2 separate regions of the Homo sapiens genome follow, and region 2 is linked to region 1. Evidence: fine-mapped QTL for protein levels in blood plasma. Region 1 holds a variant in brackets. A gene starts in the other region. All regions are shown on one strand. Distances are from middle to middle.

Region 1 (16,255 bases):
TCTGGTGAGAGCCTTCTTGCTGCATCATAACATGGTGGAGGGCATCACATAGGAGAAAGAGAGAGAGCAAGTGAGGGCCAAACTCATCCTCTTATAAGGAACTTACTCCTGGGATAATGGTATGAATCTCTTAATGAGGGCAGAGCCCTCATGGCCTAACACTTCTTAAAGATTTCACCTCTTAACACTGTGGTATTGGGGGTTGACTTTCCAACACATGATTTTTGGGAGACACATTCAAACCATACCAATAACCTTGCACTGTTTTATTGAAATGGGCACTACAATATAAATCTTAAGCCTTACCACAATTATACAACCTTTCCCTTGAACAAACACAGATGGTGGGTATCTCTAATAATCCTCAGATTGTTGCCATGTCCCAGCCCATGACTGGGCTCAATCTCAGACTTTCAACCAAGAAACATACTTTCATCTTTTATAATATCATATCTGATTACATGATAGGGAAAACAAGATTGCCAGATTATTTAAACATAGATATCTGTGGTTACGGCTAATTGATCACAGTCTCCAAAAATTAAGTAGATAGGTGTGGCTTGACATATATAGGAAGAAATATTTTTAGTTTACTGAGTAGACAGGCATCTAATATGAGGATCCGTGGAAGAAATTCACAGCTTCTTTTTTTTCTTTTTAAAAATTTCAATACTTTTGGGGGTACAGGTGTTTTTTGGTGACATGGATAAATTGCATAAGGGTGAAGTCTGAGATTTTAGTGCACTCATCACCCAAATTGGTACATTGTACCCAATATGTAGTTTTCTTTATCCCTCATCTTCTTCCCATCCTCTCCTATTCTGAGTCTCCAAAGTCCATTGTACCACTCTGCATGCACTTGTGCACCCATAGCTTAGCTCCCATTCGTAAGTGACAATATATAGTATTTGGTTTTCCATTCCTGAGTTACTTCATGTAGAATAATGGCCTCCAGCTCCATCCAAGTTGCTGCTAAAGGCATTATTTTATTCTTTTTTAATGGTTGAGTAGTATTCCATGGTGTATTTATACCACAGTTTCTTTATCCACTCATCAGTTGATGAGCACTTATGCTGGTTCTATATCTATGCAGTTGGGAATTGCGCTGTGATAAACATACATATGCAGGTGTCTTTTTGATAGGAATTGCACTGAATCTGTAGATTGCTTTGAGCAGTATCGTCATTTTCATGATATTGATTCTTCCAATCCATGAGCATGGGATGTTTTTCTGTTTGTTTGTGTCATCTATGATTTCTTTCAGCAGTATTTTGTAGTTCTCCTTGTAGAGATTTTTAATCTCTTTGGTTAAGTATATTCCTAGATATTTTATTTTTTTTGCGGCTATTGTAAAAGAAATTGAGTTCTTGATGTGAGTCTCAGCTTGGACATTCTTAGTGTATAGCAGTGCTACTGATTTGTGTGCATTGATTTTATAATCTGAGACTTTACTGAATTCATTGATCAAATCTAGGAGTCTTTTGGAGGAGTTTTCTAGGTGTACAATCAAATCATTGGCAAACAGAGATCCTTTGACTTCTTCTTTTCCAATTTGGATGCCCCTTATTTCTTTCTCTTGCCTGATTGCTCTGCATAATCTCTTCCAGAGTAAAAACAGAGAATACACTTTTCAATTCATTTTATTAGTATTGGATGTCTCAATACCAAGACTAGACAAAGATATTATAAGAAAGAAAACTGCAGATATAAACAGTTGAAGATAAAAATCTTCAAGAAAACATTAACAAATCAAATCCAGCAAAACATAAAAAGGATAATATATCCCAACCAAGTGGGGTTTATTGCAGGAATATATGACTGGTTCAACATCATAAATCAAGCAATGGACTGCGTGCAGTGGCTCACGCCTGTAATCCCAGTAAGTGGTGCTGAAAAATTGGGCATACATGTGAAAACAAAAAAGAGTCTTAGTCTGCACCTTACGCTGCATAAAAATGTGAATCAAAAATGATTAATAGACTAAATGCAAAATCTAAAATCATAACACTTCTATAATAGAAAATTCCCTAAGAGAAAACTTTCACGATGTGGGTTAGGCAAAGAATTTGTAGACATGACACCAAAAGCTTATGTAAAAGAAAAAAATTCGATAAACTGGACTTTATATTAAAATGTAACATTTTGCTCTGAGAAAGACACTATTAAATATTTGAAAAATAGAAGGCATAGATTGGGGGAAAATATTTGCTAATCACATTTCTGACTAAAAGCTGCATTCGGAATATAGGGAATATTTAAAACTCAACAATAAGACAACAACCTAATTTTACGAAATGGACAGAACGTCTGAACCTTCACCAAAGAAGGAATTTTGGATGGAAAATAAGTATATGAAAATGGGCTCAGAATCACTAAAAATTAGGGGAAATAAAATAAGATACCAGTATGCATCTATAAGACTGTTTACAGTTATCTCTGAATATCATGTGCTGGAGAGGTTGTGGAACCAGTGGAGCTCTCCAACATTATTCGTCACGATAAAAAAGGATTTGACTACTTTAGAAAACAGTTTGGCAGTTTCTTATAAAGTTGAACACATATGGTGGACCATCAAGTGGTCCAACAATTTCACTCATAGGTACCCATTTAAGGGAGATAAAAATTTATGGTCACATAAAAATATGTACACAAATCTTCATAGCCACTTTATAATTGTAATTGTCATTGTCAAATTGTAATTGTAATTGTCAGAACATGGAAACAATCCAGATATCTTTCAGCTGGAGAATGAATAAAAAAACTGTGATACATCTATATAATAGGAGATAACTCAGCAATATCAAGGGACAAGCTATTGATTCCCCAACAACATGGATGAATCTTAAAACCCAAAGACTATGTGTTGTTTGATTCCACGAGCAGACCTATAGGGAGAAAAACACATCAGCAGGAGCAGGGGTTGGGGGTGAGGGGAAGGGGTTTTGTATAAAAAGGAAGCATGGGGAATTCAAGAGGAGGTGGATGTGTGATGGAAATGTTCTCTATAGAATCGTGACGCTATGCATGTGTCAAAACCCATCAAACTGTATGCCATAAAAGTGAATTTTACTGCATGTAAGTTAAAAATCTCAGCCAGGATATGGGAACAATATGGAAAGCCGGCTGTGTGTGACAAAGCGGCTCAGAATGTACTATGAATGAATCACATAACCGATACGGAGGGAGGTGGGGAAGTCAGGGTTTAAACTGAATGGATGCTGTAAGACTCAAGACAAAAGAACTGTATATAAACACTGTACTTGAGAAATTTGTTTTTTTTAAATTTTTAATTTTTCTGGCTATATAGTAGGTGTATATATTTATGGGGTATTTGGGATATTTTGCTACATGCATACAATGTGTAATAATCACTGTTTAGTGATTGGCTGACCCTTAGTTTTAGGAACATGGTTACCAGTGTGCATCTGTTGCTGACTTTAAAAATGCAATTATTAAAGTGAAGCTGTTTCCAATTGGCTGACTTTCAGAATTCTGAGCTGTCATTGATTGACTAGGTTTCAGAAACATGTTTATTGAAATGAATTGTCATTGATTGATTACGTAAATTTAAACTCAGCTGGGTAGTTACTTATTATAATAGCTAGCAAATAACTAGTCTTCTCATAGAAGTGTAAGAACTTTTTTTCTCAACAGCATATTCTCTAATATGAACCTGGATGTAATCTCAATGTCTACATAATATGCAAATGGTTAAGTAATTATGGTGAAGACATAATGGAATATTATGCAGTTAATAACCATTATTAATGTCGCATAGCTGCATAGTAAAAGATTTATAATGTAAGGGTACATTTAAAAAGATTTTAAATAGAATTTTCTTGTTTATGGCAACTATTTGAAAAATATGCGTGTGTGTGTGTGTAAAGGGATCAATTCATAGAATGATGAATAACTCTTAATGCTTTACATGTTTTTATATTTTATATGTATATATGTGTGTGAACACAAACATGTTTTAAAATAAAGATTAAAAAAGCAATTTAATAATTCAACAGATAACAGGAAGGTTTGAAATGTAATAGGAGATGTTGAAGACCAATATGCCTTTAAGACACAAATGAACTCATCTTATTAGAGGCCATAAAAGTGGAAGAAACACTGAACTTGGAATTTATGTCTTCATTTGAGTCTTTCCTGAATCACATTATTATTTATCTGACCTTGGGCGAACCATTTGTCCTTTGTGAGCTTCATTTGCCCGCCTTTAAAATATGACGAACAATCATATGCTTCATAGGTTAAGAGAATTAGATGAGACTCCTGTTATGAAAATGCTTTGTCTTGGAAATGCGGGCTCTTTTTTGGTTCCATATGAACTTTAAAGTAGTTTTTTCCAATTCTGTGAAGAAAGTCATTGGTAGCTTGATGGGGATGGCATTGAATCTATAAATTACCTTGGGCAGTATGGCCATTTTCACAATATCGATTCTTCCTATCCATGAGCATGGAATGTTCTTCCATTTGTTTGTGTCCTCTTTTATTTCGTTGAGCAGTGGTTTATAGTTCTCCTTGAAGAGGTCCTTCACATCCCTTGTAAGTTGGATTCCTAGGTATTTTATTGTCTTTGAAGCAATTGTGAATGGGAGTTCACTCATGATTTGGCTGTTTGTCTGTTATTGGTGTATAAGAATGCTTATGATTTTTGCACATTGATTTTGTATCCTGAGACTTTGCTGAAGTTGCTTATCAGCTTAAGGAGATTTTGGGCTGAGATGATGGGGTTTTCTAAAAATACAATCATGTCATCTGCAAACAGGGACAATTTGACTTTCTCTTTTCCTAATTGAAAACCCTTTATTTCTTTCTCTTGCCTGATTGCCCTGGCCAGAACTTCCAACACTATGTTGAATAGGAGTGGTGAGAGAGGGCATCCCTGTCTTGTGCCAGTTTTCAAAGGAAATGCTTCCAGTTTGTGCCCATTCAGTATGATATTGGCTGTGGGTTTGTCATAAATAGCTCTTATTATTTTGAGATATGTCCCATCAATACCTAATTTATTGAGAGTTTTTAGCATGAATGGCTGTTGAATTTTGTTGAAGGCCTTTTCTGAATGTATTGAGATAATCATGTGGTTTTTGTCTTTGGTTCTGTTTATATAATGGATTACCTTTATTGATTTGCGTTTGTTGAACCAGCCTTGCATCCCAGGGATGAAGCCAACTTGATCGTGGTGGATAAGCTTTTTGATGTGCTGCTGGATTCAGTTTGCCAGTATTTTATTGAGGATTTTTGCATCAGTGTTCATCAGGGGTATTGATTTAAAATTCTCTTTTCTTGTTGTGTCTCTGCCAGGCTTTGGTATCAGGATGATGTTGGCCTCATAAAATGAATTAGGGAGGATTCCCTCTTTTTCTATTGATTGGAATAGTTTCAGAAGGAATGGTACCAGCTCCTGTTTGTACCTCTGGTAGAATTCGGCTGTGAATCCATTTGGTCCTGGATGTTTTTTGGTTGGTAGGCTATTAATTATTGTGGTATGGTGCTGAGAAGAATGTATATTCTGTTGATTTGGGGTGGAGAGTTCTGTAGATGTCTATTAGCTCCGATTGGTGCAGAGCTGAGTTTAATTTCTGGATATCCTTGTTAACTTTCTGTCTTGTTGATCTGTCTAATGTTGACAGTGGGGTGTTAAAGTCTCCCATTATTATAGTGTGGAAGTCTACGTCTCTTTGTAAGTCTCTAAGGACTAGCTTTATGAATCTGGGTGCTCCTGTGTTGAGTGCATATATATTTAGGATAGTTAGCTCTTCTTGTTGAATTGATCCCTTTTCAATTATGTAATGACTTTCTTTGTCTCTTTTGATCTTTGTTGGTTTAAAGTCTGTTTTATCAGAGACTAAAATTGCAGCCTCTGCTTTTTTTTTTTGCTTTCCATTTGCTTGGTAGATCTTCCTCCATCTCTTTATTTTGAGCCTATGTGTGTCTCTGCACGTGAGATGGGTTTCCTGAGTACAGCAGGCTGATGGGTCTTGACTCTTTATCCAATTTGCCAGTCTTTTAACTGTGTCTTTTAATTGGAGCATTTAGCCCATTTACATTTAAGGTTAATATTGTTATGTGTGAATCTGATCCTGTCATTATGATGTTAGCTGGTTATTTTGCTCATTAGTTGATGCAGTTTCTTCCTAGCCTCGATGGTCTTTATAATTTGGCATGTTTTGCAGTGGCTGGTATCAGTTGTTCCTTTCCATGTTTAGTGCTTCCTTGAGGAGCTCTTGTAAGGCAGGCCTGGTGGTGACAAAATCTCTCAGCATTTGCTTGTGTAAAGGATTTTATTTTTCCTTCACTTATGAAGCTTAGTTTGGCTGGATATGAAATTCTGGGTTGAAAATTCTTTTCTTTAAGAATGTTGAGTATTGGCCCCCACTCTCTTCTGGCTTGTAGAGTTTCTGCTGAGAGATCCACTGTTAGTCTGATGGGCTTCCCTTTGTGGGTAACCTGACCTTTCTCTCTGGCTGCCCTTAACATTTTTTCCTTCATTTCAACTTTAGTGAATCTGACAATTATGTGTCTTGGAGTTGCTCTTCTCAAGGAGTATCTTTGTGGCGTTCTCTGTATTTCCGGAATTTGAATGTTGGCCTGCTTGCTAGGTTGGGAAAGTTTTCCTGGATAATATTCTGAAGAGTGTTTTCCAACTTGGTTCCATTCTCCCTGTCACTTTCGGGTACACAAATCAGAC[G/A]TAGATTTGGTCTTTTCACGTAGTCCCATATTTCTTGGAGGGTTTGTTTGTTTCTTTTTACTCTTTTTCCTCTAAACTTCTCTTCTCACTTCATTTCATTCATTTGATTTTCAATCACTGATACCCTTCTTCCACTTGATCAAATCGGCTATTGAAGCTTGTGCATGCGTCATGTGGTTCTCGTGCCATGGTTTTCAGCTCCATCAGGTCATTTAAGGTCTTCTCTACACTGTTTATTCTAGTTAGCCATTCATCTAATCTTTTTTCAAGGTTTTTAGCTTCTTTGTGATGGGTTTGAACATTCTCCTTTAGCTCGGAGAAGTTTGTTATTACCGATCGTCTGAAGCCTTCTTCTCTCAACTCGTCAAAGTCATTCTCCATCCAGCTTTGTTCCATTGCTGGCGAGGAGCTGTGTTCCTTTGGAGGAAAAGAGGCACTCTGATTTTTAGAATTTTCAGCTTTTCTGCTCTGGTTTCTCCCCATCTTTGTGGTTTTTGATGATGGTGACATACAGATGGGGTTTTGGTGTGGATGTCCTTTCTGTTTGTTAGTTTTCTTTCTAACAGTTAGGACTCTCAGCTGCAGGTCTGTTGGAGTTTGCTGGAGGTCCACTCCAGACCCTGTTTGCCTGGGTATCACCGGTGGAGACTGAAGAACAGCAAATATTGCAGAACAGTAAATGTTGCTGTGTGATCCTTCTTCTGGTAGCTTCATCTCAGAGGGGCATCTGGCTGTATGAGGTGTCAGTCGGCCCCTACTGGGAGGTGTCTCCCAGTTAGGCTACTTGGGGGTCAGGGACCCACTTGAGGAGGCAGTCTGTCTGTTCTCAGATCTCAAACTCTGTGCTGGGAGAAGCACTGCTCTCTTCAAAGCTGTCAGACAGGGACGTTTAAGTCTGCAGAAGTTTCTGCTGCCTTTTGTTCAGCTATGCCCTTCCCTCAGAGGTGGAGTCTACAGAGGCAGGCAGGCCTCCTTGAGCAGCGGTGGGCTCCACCCAGTTTGAGTTTCCCAGCCGCTTTGTTTACATACTCAGGCCTCAGCAATGGTGGATGCCCATCCCCCAGGCTCACTGCCACCTTGCAGTTTGATCTCAGACTGCTGTGCTAGCAATGAGTGAGGCTCCGTGGGTGTGGGACCCTCTGAACCATGCACGGGATATAATCTCCTGGTGTGCCATTTGCTAAGGCCGTTGGAAAAGTGCAGTATTAGGGTGGGAGTGTCCCAATTTTCCAGGTACTGTTTGTCACGGCTTCCCTTTGCTAGGAAAGGGAATTCCCTGACCCCTTGTGCTTCCCAGGTGAGGTGATGCCCTGCCCTGCTCATGGGCTGCACCCACTGTCTGACAAGCCCCAGTGAGATGAACCTGGTACCTCAGTTGGAAATGCAGAAATCACCTGTCTTCTGCATTGCTCACGCTGGGAGCTGCAGACTGGAGCTGTTGCTATTTGGCCATCTTGGAACCTCCTCTTATTCACTCTTTCTAAGCATTTTTTTGTACCCATTAACTATCCCCACTTCCCCTCCCCCACTGCCTTCCCAGCCTCTGGTAATCATTATTCTACTCTCTATCTCCATGAGTTCAATTGCTTTAATTATTAGCTCCTCCAAATAAGTGAGGACATGTGAGAACATCTTTCTGTGCCTGGCTTATTTCACTTAACATAATGACTTCCCTTTCCATCCATGTTATTGCAGATGACAGTTTCATTCTTTTTTATGGCTGGGTAGTATTTACTTGATACATTTGTTTCTCATGGGAGTATGGGTTAGAAGTTTTGAAACTAATTAATTTGGATGTTAAGCTTGAACAAAATAAATGAATGAATAAATAAATAAATAAACACATTGTAAATGATCAAAGCTAGGTTTCTCAGAGTGGAAGAATGAAGTGTCGAAAATGAAAGTCAGGAGGGTTAGATGGAATCTAACCTTGATGCTCTTACCTTGCTAGGGTTTTCTGTGTTTTGGCTCCTCCCTGAACTTTCAGCCATCCCTGCAGGGCTGAGCCACACACAGTGACTCTCCACTTATTTGCTTCTCTTTTAGTGGTAGGCTGCTCTTGTTTGTGACTGGATTCTGAGTTCATGGTGGACATTCTCTGTTGTCTTGAATCAGCCTCAGTCTTAGTCATTTAGACCCAGTGCCTGGGTCTTGAGAGTGGGGCTCTCTGGGCATGCTATATTGATTTTACTACTTCTGTTGCTTTCCTGCTATACCTGTACTGTCCATTTCCAGAGAGCTGCACCAACCAGTGTCTTACTTATATTTGGACCTACAGTGTCTGTGATAATGCCTGGTACATAATAGACCTTTGGTAAATTTCTATTGCATGTAATTGAACGAAGTCGATTTGAGTGAAATGTTTAGGAAAACGAAGCGTTGACATTGCTTGTATTTCACAAGATAGTTAAAAATGAATTAACGAGGAAAATTCTGGTTTGAGAATCATTTTCTCTACCTCTTTATAACTATTTGAAATGACAGCATTCCCCATAATAGATTCTCTTTATTTGCCTCACTTCTCTTCGTAGGGGTGAGATAACTGAAATGTGCTGAGGAATTTCCATGTGGCAAGTGTCATGCTGGTCTTTTAAACACACATCCTCATTTAAATCCTGATGATGCTTAAAATCTCCACTGAGAAAATAGGGGACTTAGTAACTTTTCAAATAACTCAGAAGTAGTACGTAAAAGAGGCAGACTAGGAGTCTAGGCCTGAAGGCATGTAAATATCAAAACCAGCTTGTCAAACAGTGTGCTTCTCATAGAAAGATTACTTCTTAACTTGGAGATGAGAACTTTTCATGCTGTACAAACTCGCATGGACAGTGGGTGAGGACAGACTTCTAGGCTCTAAATCTCCAAGGGGTCAGGAAACAACCATGGGGTGGCCAATCGGAGTTGAACCCATTAAGTTACTTGTGAAGTGAAGAAAACATATCAATCAAATTTTTAAAAGTATAGTGTTTGCAATCTCTTGTCTTTCCAGAGCTCCCGACAACCGTCCTTCTGCTTTGCCTTGTGCTCTGCTGCCACCTGCTGGTCATCTCAGAGAAGGCAGAAGGAAACTTTGGGCACAGGGTCAGTGCTCTGGGATCTTTGCCAGTGCAGCCCTGCAGAGTGACTACGGTGACATCTGCAATTGTTTTCTAGGAGCTTGTGTTGACATTCTTGGCTTATCTCAATTCTTTCATTATCTGAAAAGTTTTGAGTAAAAGACCTGTGCCCTAAGGTCTGAAGTTCCAGCCTTCAAACAGGATGTGGGCAGAGGCCTCCCCTTGCTTCGGTAATAAAGTAGATGGATGGCTGATAGGGAGGGCCCAGCAGTCCCTGACGGGGAAATAGTAGGCATTTTCCAAATGAGAGCTCTTCCCTCTCCCCCTCCCTTCACCAGAGGCCCCTCAGGAGATGCTTGGCTCCTGAAGTCCCTGAAGTTGGAGCACATTTAGAAGCTAAAATAGTACCAAGATTTGGGTCTTCTCACTTGCAATTCAGGACTCCTCTGGCTAACGAAATTCTGCGTATGGACTTAAGCAAGAGAGAGCCCCCTAATATGGGAGTAGGTACAGAATTATAAAGTCTGCAGACACAGCAGGCAGGCGGCGGCTGACCTTACTATGCTGGGACTTTAAACAAGTGTTGCTAAGGTCAGCAGAGCATCCAGACACCAAATTGTGCAGTAGGATAGGAAACTATCTGTTAATGACTTTAGAAGTCTATCATTATTTTTCCACCATAAATCTTGGAAAAAACATTAGAAATAATGTATGTGTGCACATAGTCACACATATACAAAGAATGTAAAGAATATAAAATTTGTGATGAAAGGCTAAATACCAACAGTAGTTATCTGAAGGTGATTAGTGCTTTTCCTTATCTGCATTTTATAGTTTTTTTTTAAATGGTGAATATTTATTACTTAGTATCTTTTAAATTAAAAAAAGAAAGAGTGTCTCTTAATCAGAGACTCTGGCTGTATACATCTGGGACTTTTGGTTGTAAGTAGAATGGACCAGAATCTCCAAGGCAGGAGATGGGAAACAGAAAAGAAAGGTCAGCTCTGTTTTATTCTTGCAGCTCGCTCACCCCAGCAGTTTGAAGATAGAGGACAGGGCTATTTGGCTTCTCTGATGTCGTCACTCACTTGGCTGGGATGACATATGGCTGGTGCTGGAGTCCAGAGATCTGGCACTGGCTGTTGTTCTTATTCATCCTTAATCCTGCATCACCCTTCATCTCTGGCCACTACTTCTGTCCTAGTCCTCCCCTATCATGGTAATTGTCTTGTCCTCATTCCAATCTCTCTTTCTACCACCACACAAAATTTTGACAAGCAAGTGGCTAGAAACCGACATTGTTTGTTCAGTATTAAGTCAAAGGAGAAAAGGAGGAGGAACACAGAGGTGTGGTTTTGTTGTTGTTGCTTTTTTTTTTCTTGCCACTGGAAAGATTTGTGCACACTGACATTTAAAACTTATTAACCAGCCAGGAGTGGTGGCTCACTCCTGTAATCCTAGCGCTTTGGGACGCTGAGGTGGGCAGATCACTTGAGGCCAGGAGTTCGAGACCAGCCTGGCTATAATGGTGAAACCTCTTCTGTAGTAAAAATACAAAAATTAGCCAGGCATGGTGGCACACACCTATAATCCCAGCTACTTAGGAGGCTGAGGCAGGAGAATTGCTTCAACTTAGGAGGCGAAGGTTGCAGTGAGCCGAGCTCGCACCACTATACTCCAGCCTGGGTGACAGAGCGAGACTCTATCACAAAAAACAAAACAAACAAACAAAAAGACTTACTAACCAACAGCTTAACTTGGGCTGAGAGGGACTAAAACTTGGGTCTCTACCTTACCAAGTGAAATACCAGATGAGCAAAATCACGCTCAAGTTCTCACTCCCAATAAGCTTTTTCTTCCCCTATTCCCATTTTGAAAGAGGGTGAATATTCTTCCAGAATCCTAAGCATAAAATATGAGAGTTGCTGTGGAGTCTTCTCCCCATCTTATCAATTGCCAAGTTCTGAAGCTTCCATCTGAGGCCCTCCCTTCTCCCCTCCTTCCCTCTATGGGCTCCCTGTTTTACCCCCATCACCTCTGCTCTGCTCACAGCATGAGCCTTCTGAGGTTTCACACCCCCAGTCTGCCCTCATCCAGTCCATCTGACCTAGAGATGCTGCATTCATTCATCCGAGGGCCAGTTTTGACTGCCTTTTTAAAAACATTTGCGAGTTCTCTGGTATTGACCAAATAATACTTGAATTCTAAAAGTAGGTGTATAAACCCTTCTGCAGTCTAATCCCAGGTTATCATTGACTATTCCCTGTGGGATAACGTTGTCAACAGCCAAACTTGGTGGTTCCAGGCACTGTAGTTGACACTGAGGCTATAGACATGAGAATCGGATGCAGTGCTTGCGCTCCAGTAGCCCCACCTCCTGTTGGAGACACAGTCAGCAGTGGTGTAAGTGCTGTAGAGGGATGACGAAGGCTCTCTAGGAGTCTAGGACAGAGAGGGTCAGAGGCTTCTTTAGGCTAAGGCAGAGAAGGAATAGGAATTAACCAGACACCTTGAGGGTAGAAATCGAGGCTAGGAGACTGGTAGACATTTTAGGAGAGGCAACCAAGCAGTTGCATGAAATTGCAAGAATACATGCCAGGTGCTACTTCACATAGTTTAGGCTGCATGTGAGGAAGCAGTGGAAGAAGATGCAGGGGGCATAAGAACAACAGCACAAACATAAATTTCTTCCTTGTATTCTGCTTAGCACTTTTCATGGGTTTTCATGTTTACTTCTCAGGAAACACTAATATGGGTAAGGTTTGTTCTGCTACAATGTATGCTTCTGTAACAACAGTTAGCTTATACTTGATTGGAAAATAAGGGAATGATTTCAGTATAATGAAGTTGGGTTGGTTCAGATAGTCTCCCCACCCCACCCCGCAAGGCTAGGGGAATTAGAAAAGCAGGAATAAAATCAGAACGTTCAGCAGGAAATAAGAAAGCCCTCAGCTCAACTGTGGCTTAGACTCAGGGCCCTTACTGCTCTATTTTAAGAAAACTAAAAATGAGAGTCTGCCATGGGGCTCCCTCTCTAGAGAAGCCAGCTTTACGCAAGATCCTGGCTCTCGGCAGGTCCATGTCCCCCTCTGTCTACATTCACTGCAGCCCCTCTGGTTCAGAGCTCCACTTCTATCTGCATTTTCTTAGTGCCTACATGATACCATCTCCTCTCTATAACTCTGAGCTTTTTTGATAGCCCCTGAAGCAGCCTTCAACTGTGCTGAGCAGCCTTCAACTGTGCTGAGCAGCCTTCAACTGTGCTGAGCAGCCTTCAACTGTGCTGAGCAGCCTGCCTGGATCGTCCAAGTTATCTCCAGAGATTCCAGCTATTGTTTTTCTGTCTGGTTGCAAAGTTTCACAGCTTTTGAGAGATATGCTCAATTTCATTTTTTTCCCTTTAGTCCTTTATTTTTAGTGTGATTTTGTAGAATGTGAGATTTTTCAGGATCGAGTATGTTGTGCAATAGAAGACATGTACTATTGAATTCTTGTTTCATAGGAGAGGAAATAGCAGCTTAGATGCATGTAACTTGCTCATGTTTTTATGTCTGGTGGATAGTAATGCTGAATTTCATGGCTCAAGCTACTTTGTTTTATGGGGCAGATTGGATAGGGTCTTACATGCTGGCACTTAAAAATCTGTTATCTCTCGGCAACTGGGCCTGGGACTTTGCAAATCGCATTTCCTGAACTCCTTTGCTAGCTGCTTTCCTTAGGTTTTGCCAATGTGAGGCACTAGAAAGTGGCTGAGAAGTGAGAGAAGGGGGAAATGGACTTCCTGTTTTTCTATTCCTGTCCTTGTTTCTCTAGAGCCACAGACAGTTGGCTCCAGCCTCTCCATGTCCCTAAGTTGCCAGCAGCAGCTGGGTCGCCCTTCTTTGGCAGTCAGTGAACAGGCCATGCTATTGTCCTTCACCAGATGGGCTTTAAAATCCCTTCGTAATCCAAGCCCTGGCTGGATTCTTCTTCCTCAGTGGTCTGAGCACCAGCTTTCCAGAGCTTCCTCCAAGAAGTCTGAGCTCCAGGCCCCTGGAACTTCTCCCCAGCTCTTCATTCTGGAAACACCATCTCTCCCTTTTGGATTCCTCACTCCTAGGAGTTGCAGTTGCTTCCTGCAGTTCTTGTTCTCTAGGCCATTGCAGTGGGCCCTCTTGTTCTTCCAGCCTTCCAGCACTCGTGTGACCCATTCCTTGCACCAAATGCCTTCTCTTTAACAAACATAATGTGTTCTGTATCCCTGAGTGAACTCTGACCCAGATATCATGCTCATGAATATTGCTCAATAAAGAAACACGAGTCTTTGAAGGCATTTAAACTGAAAAGTGGCTCCTTGCTGCAGTTCTTATTTCTTCATTTGGCAGCATTTGACTCTGTTGACAACGCTTTCTTCCTTTAAATCTTATGTCATCTTGGTTTCTCTGAAGTAAGACTCTCATGGTCTCCATACCTCTCAGGCTACTCTTTCTTAGCCTCCTATGGAGACTCATCCGCCTTTATTCTGGTGTTTCCTGGGGCCAGATACATGCCTTTTTATTTCTCCAATCTACGCAATTTCCCTGGAAGAGCTCCTCCGTTTCCATAGCTTTAGGTGTTATCCATTTTCTGATGATGCACAGATTCATGTCTCAGCCAGACAGTTCTCCTCAGTCCCAGGCCCATTCATCCAGCTGTCCTCTGGACATCTCCATGGGAGTGCTCCCTATGTTGCATTAGAGGGCCTGGACTGTGATGGAGGGAGACCCGGTTTCAATCCAGATCTGCATCATACCCAAGGCATCCCAAAAAGTTGATAATCATCTGTGTTTCCCACCAACCCTTCTCTCCCTCTGTGTTCCTAGTGTAAGTGGCTAACTCTAGCATTCATCCTTGTCGAACTTGAAAAGCTGGGTGTCCGTGTTGACCCCTGCTTCTCCCTCATGTCCCATATACAAATAAGTCCACTAGATTAAATCTCTTCATTCAATTTACGTATTTCTATCATTACTGTCACAACTCTAGTCTGGCCCACTATAATTTCCAACAGCTTCCTCAAAGGCATCTTACCTTCCAATGATGCTGTTCTAAACATCAACTTCCACACAGCAGTTATTTTCCCCCAAATAAAAATCTAATCAAAGTCTCTCCTCTACTTAAAACTGTTCAGTTCTGATTCTCCTCTTGGAATGAAATACACTCTATAGCATGGCTTATCATACCTTGGTGATCTTGTAACGGGATGCTTCTAGCTGAGGGCTCTTTATTTTATGCAAGAAAAGACGCCATTTAAAGGTTTCCAGTTCTAATATCTCCAGGGGTACAGATGGAAGGCACCGTTAGGAACAGAGATTGCTCTGGGAGGGGTCACTTGTCTCTCTTACTTATGTAAATGTCAGTCAAGATTGTACCCATTGAAGGAAGGCATAATAGGGTTTATTTGAAACTTGGCTGTGGCTACCTCTTGGAAAGCACATGACTTATCTCCAGCGAAGAAGTCAATAGAAGTCTTTAAGTTTCTTGGGAACAAAGGGAACATATTTGACCTCTTCCTTTTTGAGTTTTGTGGTCATTAACACTTCGATGAATTGACAGTCTTAGCTGATATATTCCCTGGCAGCAAAGTTCCCCAGGAAAGAAAGGTGAGTTTGCATGTAGAGAGCTTATATTGACACAAAGGTATAACTGAATTCCCATCCACAGTATTAATATGTACCTGAGGTGGCTCTCAACTAGCAGGTGGATGAAAAGACTCATCCTGTAGATGTCAAGTCAGCTTCAATCCTTAGCCATGTCAGTGCTTGAGCAATGGGTCCATGAACATCTGGGCCATGGCAGGAATAGATATTCTTGGGGCCAACTGCATGGATTTTTTCTCTCCAGGGTTGACCTATTTCCAATTCTGAGGGAGACCAGCCATAGGACTGGCTATATAGTTTGAGAGGCCCTGTGCAAAATGAAAAGGGGTGTGTGTGTAACAACCCTCCCCACAACTTTTCATTGCTATGTAGTTTGAGAGGCCCTGTGCAAAATGAAAAGGCTTGTGTGTGTGGTGGAGTTGTACACACACACACTCACACACACACACACACACACACACACACACACACACACCCCTTTTCATTTTGCACAGGGCCTCTCAAACTATATAGCCAGTCCTTCAAATTCTGTTTACAGAATTTACCAACCTGGACCCATTAGCCAGCAGGTGGAGTGTTCACTTTGGACACTTTTTGGACACTTTTTCATGTGGAGTGATGAGTAATTTGTCTTCACAGGAGTTCATACCTACTGCAAGAATGGTGTGACTTTGCTGTCTGCAGTATCTGTGCCAGCAACATGCTCTGGCAGCTTGTGGAAGTCATAACCTGCTGTATGATATCTAATACAACATTTTTTTAGGCTTGAAAAGGAAGTGCAACAATGGGCACATGACCACAGGATTCAATGATTATACTATTTACTCTAGTACCCAGAAGTGGGTGCCCAAGTAGCACTGGCATGAGCTTGGGAAGGCTAGACT
Region 2 (8,000 bases), 46 Mb before region 1:
AGGTTTCCAGGGAAGAGGGGACTCAGCAACGAGGGGTGCTCCCTCTGCAGTGTTTATTGGAATAGTACTGGTACTTTTTATTGTAGGTCGTCTTGTTTCTAGCAAAACAGGTGGCAGCAGCCTTATCACACTCACACAGTTGACTTCTGCAGGAGTCCTGTTTTGCTGAAATCATAAGAAAATAAACACAAGATGGGAGTTTATTAATATTCAGTGGCTTCTTGTGGGAACCCTGGGGTAGAAGACACAGCCCTGTCCTCCAGAAGCTCCTAGTTGGAGACAAACACCTGCGCTCCAGATATTTCTGACCAATGGGGAGACAGAATTCTTGCCCTTGGGATGCTGGCCTCCAGCCTGGTGGAGACACAGCCAGGCACTGGGATACTTTCTCAAAGGCCTTCCTAACAGCCATAATCTCTTCCTCTTGCTAACAGATGTGTCCAGGAGGCAAAGCCCTAGCCTCGGGGGTCTGGGAATAGATTGTGATTGGTGTAAGCCAGGCAGGGTCATCCCTTTTTCCTTTGCAGTGATTGGTCTTTGTGTATCATGTAACCTTGTTCCAACCAATGAGCAACAAGGGGAAGTCTGCTGGGGGCTTCTGGGAACGATCTATTTCCTCCCTCCAAAAAGAGAGATGCCCAAAAGGAAAGCCTCTTCCATAGTATGAGGCCAGGAGGGTGGACCTGCAGCCTGTCTCTTGACATCCCAGGTGTAGACACTGGCCACGTGGCATAGCTGAAGGCCAGGAGAAGGCTGGATTCTTAATGACATGGCTGGAAAGCTGCCCCAAGCCTGGCACTGCACTCTTCCAGAATTCTAGTTATGCGACAGTCACATATCCCCATTATGCAAGCCACTGTCAGCTTGGCATCATGTGGCTTGTGACCTAACGCCTGCTGAAGATACATGCCTCTATGGAGAGGCCATGATGGGAGACATAATTTCTGATCTTAAAGGACTCAGGCCATGGGCAGGAGTCCACGCTTTTTCCAAATCCCACTCATGAGTCAGCTGTCTGGGGACACCAAGCAAAGCCTTCCAGTGCCACCCACCTCTCCTCCCCTTCAGGGCCAAACTTTCTCCAGAATGTTGTCTTTGCCTCCTGTCTTTATTTGCCTTCCCATCAGCCCCCACCTGGTCTAATCTGGCTTTGCCCTCCCGACTCCATGGAAACAGCTTCCCCTGAGTCCCTCATGCGTTTCTGCCTCAACATCCAGGGGAGCCTTGTTGGCCCTTTTCATGGAGGACTCCCTGTTCACTTGGCCCTTGCTAACCATTTCCTTACTGACTCCTTGACCTTCTCGCTCAGTTCCCCTTCTCCCTCTCTGTCCATCCCTTCTCTGTCTCCTTTCTGGGCCTTTAAACAGCAAATGAGTGATCACACCCACCTCTCAGGTCTCTGCTGCTGGCTTCTGAATCTGTGTCCCAGTCCTGAATTCTCCCCTGAGCTGCATTTGTATAGACAGCTGCCTGCTGGACCCCTCCCTGGGTGCTGGAGGCCCCTAAACTCAACATGCTGGAAATAGAACTGCTCCTCCCCACCCTCCACCATGACCTGCTCCCATGGTCTTTATCACAGTTGTGCCATCCATGCAGCCACATATCCATCCAACAACTCCCTCTCCCCATCCCTCCCAACTCAGTCACCAGTTCAGCTGATTCCATCTCAAATGCATCTTGATTTTTTCTCCACCTTTCCCATCCTGACCTCCATTGTTTTATGTCAAGATGTTACTCCCTCTTGCCTGCATGATGGCAATAGCTTTCTCTGCCCCCCTTCCACTTGTCTCCATCGACCCTGTCCCCACAGTGAGTCATCTAAAATGCAAATCTGACCCTGTAGCTCCTTTGCTTAATAGCATCCTATTGCTTTAGGGCAAAACCTAAATACAGCCCGGCCTGGAGGGCCGGATTGACCTAGCTCCTTCCTATGTCTCCAGCATCATGGCTCAGCACTGCTCCTCTTCCTCATGTTTCTGCTGGGCAGTACAGAATGGCTTACAGTGCCCTTTAGTGCCTTTGACCATGCTGTGTCCTCTTCTGGGAATGCTCCCTCCTCTTCCCTGACTCTCTGCACAGCCTTTCAGACTCAGCTTAGGGGTCACCCCTTCCAGGAGCCTTCCTCAAGCCTCAGGCTGTGTTAATGCCTTATCTGTTTGTTTACTTCCCACTGGAGTCTTTACTACATTGGATTTTCACTTTCCTGGCTTCCCACTCAACCGTGAGCTTCCTGAAGCAGGAACTGTGTCCCTCTGTGTCTATCTTTGGTGCCCAGCACAGTCCCCAGCACTGTCTAAACAAATGAGGGCCACTCGATGGTGAGGTAGGACTCTTACCACAGGTGATTCTGCTCCCCGAGTTGCTAAACTTGTAGCTCAGAAATTTGGTGCCACATCCACGTTTCTCCAGACGTTTGTAGCAACAGTCATGAGTGACACAGCAGCTGTGAGGAGACACCCTGTTGGGGCTCTTGTCCCACAGCTCCAGGAGGCCTGGTGCCTGTGGTCTCACCCCCTTGGACCCTGGGCAGAGACCCAGTGACTTTGCAACAGTCTAGAGCAGAAGTTCCAACATGCCGGCTGCTTTTCCAGCCAGGCCATCCTGAGACCTCTGCGCCCATCAGGAACCGGCACTGTCTTTGCAGCTCCCAGCCCTGCCTGGGCCAGAGTCTAGGAGGGTAGGGAGGGATAGGTGGCCTCACCGATCCGTTGCATCCTTGGGGGATCCTCTGCCACCCACGCCACAGTGGCAGCCGTAGAAGCCATAACTGAGTGCGGCTTCCTTTCCTGTCGTCAACTTGATCATTCTGTGGAAATTCACCAAATTCCCATGGGCCTGCAGTAGGCCTGGAAGGAAATTTGGGAGTTGTCTGGTGATGGGGCATGGGGTTCTGCGCCCTCCCTCTCTGCCCCTCTCTGCTACTCTCCTTCCTCCCAAATGGCTTCTTTTTTCCCCCTGAGAGAGGATCACTGCAATGGGAGAGAAAACTAAGGGACAAGAGTGCTTCCCTTCTGGGGCTGTCCCCCCATGCTCAGAGGTCAGGGTCAGCTCTTACCAAAGATCATGATCACTGCCAACAGTAGGAGGGTCTTCATGGTAAGAGTTCTTGGGTGACAAATGCAGATGGACTGGCCTAGCTCCTCTGCTGGGTGGTCTCAACTTCTGCCCCGGCCGTCGCTCCCCTGCTCCTCCTTGGTGGCTCTGAGACACACAGACATGCTCTCCCATCCAACCTAAGTCCAGGGTGACTTCCTCTGTCACACTCAGAGCACACAAGGAGTGCCCTCCAGCAATGCACACACACACACACACACACACACACAACCACCTCCTGACCCGTTCCCAGCTCTGCAGAATGGTTTCACACACATCAGGCCCTCAGACCTGTGGAGAACCCCATGATACACTAATGAGACCTCCCCTGTACCTCATCAGACTGAGAGTTCTTGGGAGGTTGGAACCAGGTTCCTCCCAACTACCTGGGAGGTTCCTGAGGTCAGAGGATGTGTCCCTCGCTAGACATAGCTTGCATATCCCCACACTGGATTCAAGGCTTGGAGTCTCCAAGGCACCCATGGAGGCTCGGCCTCAGTATTTTCCTCCAGAATGAAAGCATCAACCTCTCTCTTCTAGGCCTTCTAACCCCTTCCACATACACAAGTTCCCAAACACATACATGTTAACACACCTATGCCCACATACACACACTCTCGTACTTACCTGATAGTGCCAACATCCTCTCTTACACTACACTCACATACTCACTCAACACACTCATGCACACACACCCTCTCATACATATCAAATCATGCACATGCATGCACAACACAGCCACTCTCAAAGGCAGCGAATGAGCAGGAATTCTGCTCTTGACAGGACATCAGCTTCGCTGGCTCTTTACCTCTCAGAGGACTCCAGAGTTGTATCCCCAGGCCGTCTTGTTTGTTCTGCACTCCTGCTCCCCTTAAATAGCTGCTCCCTCTGGGAGGTTGGGGGTAGGTGAGGCACAAGGCTGGGGATGGGCGTGGTCAGTTGGTGGACTCAGGATTGGTCGCCCATACCCCTAGGTAATCCCTTTCCTTCCCCTCATCAGCTGGCAGGACAGAGTTGAGGATTGGGAAACCTTACGTGTCAGTAGCTGATGCCAAAACACATTTCAGGCAGTTTTGCAGTCTTTCCATGGAGTAAATTCCCATAACCAGCTCTGGGTGTGATCAACGGTCAGCCACCTCCCTGCAATCGCCTCTAAGGGGGGCAGAGACTGTCTGCTGTTGCAGGCTGTGGACTCATTTGCACACCCAAAGGGACTACCAATTGCTGAGCAAGGATTGCTCCCTTCTGCTCAATGTGGCATTTGGGAATAGAAAAGAGGGCTTTTAGTGGTACTCATTCATTCAGCCGCTCAATCATTCATTCACAGGAAGTATGTCCTGGGCCTCTACCATGTTCCAGCACCTGTGCAGGCCTCACGTGTGCACCCCACAGTCCACCAGGGAGAGAGTTTAATGGGGGTGGATTTCCCTTCCCACTAACTTGGGCCAGGGCCTCAACTTTCTCTTCTTATTCTTCTTTCTTCTTTTCCTCCACCCCTGTCTCATATGAGCTTCTAAACCTGGAAAAAGCCAGAGGCTATCCTTGAAGTTCCCACCAAAGCACTGCCTTCACTTTATTCCCCATCCTCACCTGTTTGGAGACAGGGCAGGTGAATGCTCCCTGGATCTGTTGCTCTTTTTCCTTCAGCCTTCGGGCTGACACTGACTCCAGCTTTAATTCATAAAGTAAATATCTTTTTCATTGCTCTCCAGCACATGCTAAGAATTTAGCTTCCACCGCCTTAAGTAAACACTCTGCGATACCAGTCCTAAAAAAGTCACTGTGGCAGGGGCTGTGGTGCTTGTGAACATTCCATCTGTTCCCTACACTCTAGAGCCCCTTGCAGGGATGGAGACCTAGGGCCCTGCTGCTGACTGGTAAAACATGAGCACTGGTATGAAGGGTCACTTCCAGGTTTCTCCAGCAAGGGGACTATGAGATGCAACTCCCCAGCCCTTCCCTGCCCCACTGGTAGAACCAGAAGATGAAAGCAATCTGGGGTGTAAGAATCATGGCACGGAAGACAGTTGTCCTAGAAAGTCCTGCAGCTCACAGGGGTCTTAGTGTGAGTGAGAAATAGACTTTTGTTGTATTAAGCTGATGATAATTGAGATGGGCAGTTGCTGGAGCATAACCTAATCTATCCCAAGAGCCATCAAACAGCTTTCCTCTCGAGAATACCATTTACCTCCAGTGCTCGACTGTGTAAGGGGTTGGACTGTGGTCCTCCTTCCTGCTCTCAGTTCCTGTGTTGGAGTCCCGGTACCTTAGAATGTGATCTTATTTAAAAATAGGGTCATTGCAGATATAATTAGTTAAGAGGAGATCACTAGGGCAGCTAGGATGGGCCCTAATCCAAGATGACAGATGTCATTACAAAAATGGGAAATTTGGAGACAGGCAGGCACACTGGGAGAAGGCCATACAAAGATGAAGGCAGAGATCAGGGTGAAGCTTCTACAAGCCAAGGAATGGCAAAGATTACCAGAAAACACTGGAAGCTAGGAGAGAGGGATGGAGCAGATTCTCCCTCACAGCCCTCAGAAGGAATCAACCCTGTTGGGCCCTTTGATTTCTGCCACTGGAACTGTTAGACAATAAAATGTCTGTTGTGTAAGCCACAAAGTACCTAATACAAAGCCGAAGCAAACTAACACAACCTCCAGGGATCTCTGTTGGCTTCCTTCACTCTTCTTATTCTGGGTTGCCAGTCCTATAGCAGTTGGCTTTATGGCCACGTCAGGGTTCAGAGGTCTCAACCCCCCGGGGTAGACCACTGCCTTTGTTAAACATTGCACTTTCGGAAACAGTAGTTCCTCCAATAGGCAGAACCGCCTCCCTCTCTGTATATCTGGATAGCCCTGGTCCAGGCTTCAGTTGAAAGAAATACTCCAACGCTCAAGGACTCTGGTGACGTCGGATAGAGCCTCTCCTTTTCCCATCATTTCAGGCTGTTTTACAGGAATTCAAAGTCCATGAATTGGCCTCTTGTTCATCTTCCATCCCAGACCTAATCCAAGCCCTTGGACTCAGTAAGCCAAACAGAAACCTCTACTTTCACAGGGCTTCCGCTTAAGCAGAAAGAGACAGACAATCAGCAAAAGACATACTAGTAAATGACATCATGTGATAGGTGGTGACACTGCAATGGGGAGAGAGGCAGTAGGTGACAGGGCAGGAGCACCGTCATCTCGGACAAACACCACCACTTTAAGTTCCAGCTCCCTTTCTAGCCTCATGCATTTCAAGGAAATCATTTCTCTTCTCACTACAAACAGCCAGAAAGAGTAGACAGTAAAACACAGATAAAACACAGATAAAACACAGATAAGACAGCTCGGGCAGAGAGGGAGGTGTTCGGAAAGTTTCTCTGGCAACTGCCAAACTTCACCCTCATAAAATGGGCCCCAGTAAAACAGTGAGCCTTAATAAGCACATTCTTTTCCCTTCAGGTGCACTAAGATAGGAAAGCTAAAAGCAGACTTGGGGAGTATGCCTGAGGCTGCAGAAAGATGTATGGGAACAGACACAGAAACTCTCCCTTCCAGATAGGCACAACAAAAAGACACAGAAGCAGTCCAAGCCTCTGTTAAACTCTCCCACCCTGAATCCTTAAAAACTCTTAGTCTGTAAGTGTGTGCCTCTGACCTAACTCAGACAGCTGCCCCTCTCTAAAATAAACCTGTCCTTGACTGCCAAGCCAGCTTTCATGTTTCTTTCCTCTTTCCTTAATTCTTACAGTAGGGATGGAGGAGGGGTATCTGGAGTAGGAGGATGGCAATTTTACATAAGATTGGAGTGCTCAAAGAGAGGTGCTTTGAGCTTAGTCAGTGCTCAGAACACTTTCCTTGCATTATTAATAACTAAAAGAATCAGCATATTGACAAGTTTTTTTCTTTTGCCAAATCAATATCTGCATAAGCAGGTTTTTTTTGTTGTTGTTGTTTTCGTTTTTTTTTTTTTTTTGAGACGGAGTCTCGCTTTGTCGCCAGGCTGGAGTGCAGTTGTGAGATCTCGGCTCACTGCAACCTCCGCCTCCCAGGTTCAAGAGATTCTCCTGCCTCAGCCTCCGGAGTAGCTGGGACTACAGGCATGTGCCACCACGCCCAGCTAATTTTTGAATTTTTAGTAGAGGCGGGGTTTCACCATGTGGGCCAGGATGGTCTCGATCTCCTGACCTCATGATCTGCCCACCTGGGACTCCCAAAGTGCTGGGATTACAGGCGTGAGCCACCAAGCCTGGCCAGCAGTTGTTTTTAATTGCAGGATTACGGTTGAAATTTTTCTGCTACTGTTTCCTAATGTTCCTTTGTGAACATACATTAAAAATTTTTTTGAGATAAATTTTTACTTACAGAAAAAAATTGCAAAAGTGGAATTTTTACTTACAGAAAAAATGCCCTTCACCCAGGTTCCCTAATGTTAACATCTTCCATAGCCATTGTACAATCATGGAAACCAGGAAATTCATGTTATTAACTAATCTACAGGCATTATTTTAATTTCACCAGTTTTCCTACTCATGTCTTTTTTCTTCCAGGCTCTCACATTGCATGTAGTTTTCATATCTCCTTAGTTTTTGCTAATCTGTGACATCTCCATACTTTTCTTGGCCTTTTATGACTGTGATACTGTTAGATAGTACTGGTCAAGCTTTTGTAGAATGTCATCCATTTTGGGTTTGTCCGATACACTCTCATGATCAGATTGAGGTTATGTATTTTTAGCAAGAATGTTACAAAGTGATATGGTGTCCTTCTCGATGATATTGGTATATCTCACTACTACTCATGTTAATTTTGATCACTGGTTAAGATGGTGTCTGACGGGTTTCTCCACTGTAAAGTTACTATTTTTCCTTTTGTAATTAATAAATATGTTGTGGGGAGATACTTTGAGATGGTTCA

Which allele goes with the higher level. Positions count from the first base shown, and alleles are read on the strand shown. Strength reflects both the effect of a copy and how common the allele is.
In carriers of allele G in region 1, the plasma level of the protein whose gene starts at base 3,940 in region 2 tends to be lower than with A alone (weak association).

Evidence for each region. A credible set is the group of variants that fine-mapping cannot tell apart. PIP is the posterior inclusion probability: the model's chance that the variant is causal. The UK Biobank Pharma Proteomics Project read protein levels with antibody pairs (Olink). The fine-mapping took linkage between variants from a reference panel, not from the people measured, so its PIPs are less certain.
Region 2: it holds the start of PLA2G2A, and the variant in region 1 is the best candidate, but not a certain one, in a credible set for the plasma level of the PLA2G2A protein (UK Biobank, PIP 0.51).

The regions. Positions count from the first base shown.
Region 1 is chr1:65,678,127-65,694,381 of GRCh38, forward strand. No RefSeq gene overlaps it. Among named protein-coding and RNA genes, the nearest start is that of PDE4B, 110 kb to the right of the region's middle. The variant G/A (reference allele first, on the strand shown) is at 6,701.
Region 2 is chr1:19,975,679-19,983,678 of GRCh38, forward strand. PLA2G2A (phospholipase A2 group IIA) reads right to left here and starts at 3,940. Exons shown (of 5, transcript NM_001395463.1): 1 at 3,902-3,940; 2 at 3,056-3,201; 3 at 2,702-2,846; 4 at 2,337-2,443; 5 at 1-165. The coding sequence starts at 3,095. The coding sequence ends at 23. RefSeq lists an enhancer at 2,584-3,083.